Regions from separate parts of the Homo sapiens genome. Here region 2 is linked to region 1. Evidence: fine-mapped expression QTL. Tissue or cell type: testis. Region 1 holds a variant in brackets; the other region holds the start of a gene. All regions are shown on one strand. Distances are between the middles of the regions.

Region 1 (2,685 bases):
CCAATCAGACTGGTCGTGGGCTGCTACTTCATTTACATAGGGTGTATATCAAGTAACCAATGGGAAACCTCTAGAGGGTATTTGACCCCAGAAAATTCCATAACAGGGCTCTTGAGCCCCTATGCTCAGGCCACTCCCACCCCGTGGAGTGTACTTTCATTTTCAGCAAATCTCTGCTGTTGTCACTTTATTCTTTCCTTGCTTTGTCTGTGCGTTTGGTCCAATTCTTTTCACCGCTAACACATCTGTGACCCTCTTTTCTACTAGGTTTCTCCAGAATCCCTTGCAATTGATTAGGCCACTGGTTATTTGGCCCCTTTCCAAAGAACTTACCTTCACTAATGAGTTGAACCAACCTCATCTCCCATCTTTATCTCCATCTCCTCCTCCCCTTCCAAAGAACCCTACTTTATACCTACAACTAACTTCAATTCCGTCCCTCTCTGGTTCTTTTCTAGCCAATGCTGTTCCTTTGTCTACAGAAACTTCCTTGTGAAAACACACCAATACACCTAATTTAGGATACACCTAAATTTCCAGAATACACCAATTTGTAAAAAATGAATCATATCAGATATTGTTCTTTGAACTTCACCCTATAATTAGTATTGACTTTTCTAACTTACACAAACTTTATATTCAAGTTAAGAACAATCCAAGTTCATGCTATGGAACCTTGTGGGCTATATTTTGCACAGGAGCAAGTTAGCTCTGCTTGAATGTAACATGTACTTATTGAGTGCTTGCTATGAATGTTCAGAGCTGGGGGAGTTGTTCAGATAGCTCCTGTCTCCCAGATTTCATACCAGTGATTTCTCAGAGTACAGTCCAAGAACCCCTCAGAAAATGCAGATGCAGACACTCAGGACTTATCTGAGACCTTCTGAATCAGAATCTTTAGGACAAGGGCCCAGAAACAGCATTTTAAACAAGTTTCCATGGTGATTCTTAACTAAGCTAAAGTATGAGAAGCACAAGAGAAACAACATATGCATATGAACAATTAAGAAACAAAATAACAAACATATATAGAGAGCAGAACAAGGAAAAGAACCCTGACTTTGGAGTCTGGCTGACCTTAATGCAAATTCCAATTGCCGTATTTTCACAGGCAAATTATTTACCATTCTGACCTTCAGTTTCCTCACTGGTAAGTTGCTGGCTCTAATAGTTACTTGCAGGGTCACTAGGGATGAGTGATAATATATTTAAAATACTTAGCATACTGCTCAATATATGTGAGACATTATGACATTCAGGGCCTCTGTGTTACAAACTGCCCCTCAAATTGTGAAACACTGCAGCCCTGATAGCTATTTTCTTTAAAAAAAAAAAAATGGGACAGCACAAGTGCTACAGGAATTAGGAGTAGGGAGTTCTCACTGTGATTAGAGGTAGAAGGGAAGATACATGAAAGAGCTGGTGCACAGCTTTAGGAGACTGAAATTTATTCAAACATGCATGGGTGGTAAAAATGTCCTCCTTTCCCAGAAGTTCTCCAAGTCATAGCTACTACGCTCAGTGAATTGTAAACAATTGCAAGAAACAATTTAAAAATTACCTTGCTGTGTCCTTCAACTATTCTGTGAATTAAATGATCTATTTTTATATTCCTCATATCATAAAACATTTCCACTGTCAAAATTATCCTCAAAATTATCTCAAGTTTTATGCTAGTAACATGATGATAGTTTGTTGTATGTAGCACATT[C/T]CATTCCCAAGGAGATAGTGGAATTTTATACAGACAGCTTCACAAATATGCCATCAGTTATTTATACACAAAATGATAGTACTGACCTCCTGCCAGAAGAGGGAACTCTGGGTTACTATACTATGATTACAGTACAATATAGGCTGCAGCTTTTCTATCATCTCTTCGAAGAACCATGTGAAAGATGTCTAGTGAGGATCAAGGAGGCTGCAAAGACATTCACCTGCTCCAGGAAACTAACTGGCCCATGAGAGGATAAAGCCTCTTAATGATCCCATCAGTAAAACAGGCTACTTGATTAAGCTAACTCACTCAGAACCAATCCTATTAAACCTCATTATTCCTGTGAAGAATCAAAAGTATCTGCAACTCCATCTCAACAAATGGAGTAAAGTTTCAAATGATAAAACCTGAAAAAACAAGGTAACAATTACTAAGTATATAATTACAGTGTCAGAACTCAAAACAAACTCCGCACTCAATCCACAAGACATCTATTCCCCCTGAGTGAGAAAGCCACCTTTGAAACTGAAAATCTATATAAAAACAAGGGGACCAAAACAATTCATTTAATTGAAGGCAATTTCTATTATTTCTATTAATGTCATATAGGGGAAGAGATACAGCCTTTGCTTTTATATTCCAGTTCTGCAAAAAAAAAATGCATATATATATGCATGTATTAAAATAGACTGAGACAGATTAACACATATAAATAGCTCAATCCAACATCTGTAGCAGCCCTTTAGATTGTATTAAAGTCCTAGCTGTTTATCAGGCTGGTAAATCATATCAGCTCCTAGTTATTTAAATTGCCAGTTTCCAGGCAACCATTTCTTTTTGTCAACTGTCACTCACTCTTAAGTTCCTCTGCAATACTTCCTTAAGAAAAAAATAGTGAAAAAATCTTGACACACTTATTTTGGGCATAAAAGATGCACTTAATTTTATCTCTGATCTTCAAGAGTCTGAGA
Region 2 (2,685 bases), 340 kb before region 1:
ATTTTATTTCATCCTAAACAGTTTCATTTGGGGCTGATGAGAAAAAGCCACATAATGGAAAAAAGAAAACTACCTTTATAACTCTGTGGCAAACACATTTTAGAAGGTAGGTCTATAAATAGATGTGCTTCTGTAGGCACAGAGTAAATATAAAATCGTCAGGCTAGCGGGGCTGCAGTTTAAACTGAAGCCCCAATATGAACTTACCTGATTTTTAAAGTCCTATTAGAATAGGCTTACAATCAGTACACAGCTCCTTTTTCTAGTTGCATAGTAAAGGCAAAACACCCCCAACTACATTTTACTTATCTCAGTCTCATCTTTCATCAGAAGCAATAGTTTGCAATTTCATTCAGAAGCTGCTGTCCCTAAGCAGACTGAATATGCACAGAAACAGTAATGGAAGGGATCTAAGTTAAACCCTACAGACGCACCAAGAAAATAGCAACATCAACACGAAAAAGCAGCAATTTCCTTAAGAGAGGTGCTTTTCTTAGCTGCATTTCCCAAGCCAGCCCCCTTTCAAACCTAAAACGTCTCAGTTATGAAAGAGGATCTTACCTGAGCTGATCATACTGTGCATTCTTTGCTGAGCCAAGAGCTGCTCTCGTCCAGCCACCCCATCTGAGGAAAAACAGGAGTCACTCTCGTAAATTGTCTGCAGCATATTCCAGTCACTCTTACTTCAGCTACATGAAACATTCATCACTGCTCAGTGCACCGGCCCCAGGAGCTACCCTCGCTGGTTCTCCCTCCTCCCTGAGGAGAAGCAGCAGAGGATCAACTTCGACAATGATTTCCTTTCTGCTCAAATGGGCATCCACTTTTAAAAAGACCTGGACACTTTTCCCATGTTACCAACCTGTGTGCAAAGCAGAAAGGACAGAGTGGATGCTATAGCTCTCTGGAGTTTAGGTTATCCCGGAAACTACAAGCAGGTGGGAAATAGGAACGTGCTTCGGGGTTATTTCTTTGTCAGAATACGTAGAAAATTATTAAGTCTACCCACGAGAAAAAGAAACCAATTAAACCTGGCTTAGAGTTCTTCAGGCTGCTAGGGTTTTGTTGCAAAAACCCTCAGTCCTGCAAGTGGCTCCAGCCGGTGCCCTTCTCCTATCTGTGTCTGTGCCTCTCTTCCCCCTTTCTCAGTCTCTCTCAGCTCAAGTTGGCTAAAGCGAGTGATAATCCATTTGCATATGAATCAACAACAGCATGGCCCACAGGCACAGAAATAGAACAATGGTCGGCCTGAGCCAAAAATAGGTCAAGCATGGCCGAGTGATTGGAGCCTGCATTAATGCATTTAAAAATACCCCAGCAAACCCAGCTGTCCAGCCTCTATCTTTCCAACCATAATTCTCTATCGCAGGGCCTTAAAACCAATTAACTCTTTCCTCTCTCGAAGCTTGCTTTACACACTGTGTTTCCATACTGGCGATTCGCTTCCAAAGAAAGGAAGGCAAGAAAAAAAATTAAGAATCATAATTCTAAGAGGGCAAATGCACATACATTTCATTTCATTTTATTTTTGTAGTATGTGTTTTTGGAAGAGAGAGGAGAGAAGTACAGAGCTCTGTATTGGTTCTAAAATAATACTGGAAGCTTTTGCTCATAATGTGGTTTCTGCCTCACCCACGCACAGCAATCCTGGTGTTCTATTTTTGTTGCCTGTTTCTCAGGCTACACTGCAGTTGGCTGTAGCACTAGAAGCTTTTCTGCCTTCTAGTTTCAGGACTAACAGGAGATTTAGCAGAGGTACTTTTGGAAAACAAGCACACCCCAGAATAAAATTTTTATGAAGGACAGGCTTGATTTTTTACTTGCTATTTATGCAAGACAATTGTCCATTTCACAAATCCTATTGTATCTTAGTACCACCTATGAATTTTATCGCATCCATCCAGTTAGTACTATATCTATAAACAAAACAAAACACAAAACACAAAACCGTGGCTTATATGTGAAAATTTCCCCTCAGCCTCTCAGGCTAAATTCAATTTACTTGCAAAAGGAAAAGAAAGTAGTCTGATTTCTTATGGATACAGAATTTCTGAGCATATGCACCTGTTGATGGATAAATCATATATATGGTTAGTACCCAACTATGACTGTTCTGCATTCAGCTATACATTGGTTGCCCGAAATATGGACCTCCTAACTTTTCTGTAGAAATAGCATTTATGATAGTCAATAGATTACCAGACACATTGTGGCGTTCAGCTATACAGTACAGTAGATAGTATCAGAGTTTTATAGTCTCTGGTGCTACATTTATATCCTTTCTATATAAGAGATAAATTTTACATTCCAAAGAGGGATCCTAGCATCTTGTCACTTCCAAGAGCAAACCCAAAAGTGATAATCTACTAGTCATGGAAGCTCTTTTCTCTTTTCTAAACTAAATCAGCGAGGAAAATGTAATTCTAAGGCATCAGAAGCAACAGGGGAAAGAGAGGAAAAAGCAGATTATTTCAAAATTCCCAGAACAATCCGATGGAAGAGGGATCTTGGTCAACTCCAGAGTATGAAGTCAGAGGGGGCAAACAAGGGGACACAGAGTTTTGATGAAAGGGAAGAAATAAGCACGTTAAATCATTCATCAAATAGGCCACTGCTGAATTCCTCTTCTTTCACAGATTAATTTCTACTGAATACTCTACTTCTTGAAAAATTGTATTTGGATAT

Alleles and levels. Positions count from the first base shown, and alleles are read on the strand shown. Sizes are in standard deviations (SD) of each study's normalised expression.
For the expression in testis of the gene that starts at base 1,137 in region 2, allele C in region 1 goes with a higher level than allele T (moderate effect, 0.40 SD a copy in GTEx).

What was found. PIP is the estimated chance that this variant, and not a neighbour inherited with it, causes the effect.
Region 2: it holds the start of HDAC9, and the variant in region 1 is fine-mapped to the expression of HDAC9 in testis (GTEx, PIP 0.94).

What each region holds. Positions count from the first base shown.
Region 1 is chr7:18,150,756-18,153,440 of GRCh38, reverse strand. It overlaps a transcript of HDAC9 not described here. Among named protein-coding and RNA genes, the nearest start is that of MIR1302-6, 25 kb to the right of the region's middle. The variant C/T (reference allele first, on the strand shown) is at 1,712.
Region 2 is chr7:18,494,201-18,496,885 of GRCh38, reverse strand. HDAC9 (histone deacetylase 9) reads right to left here and starts at 1,137. Exons shown (of 26, transcript NM_178425.4): 1 at 863-1,137; 2 at 562-624. The coding sequence starts at 583. RefSeq lists an enhancer at 1,359-1,408.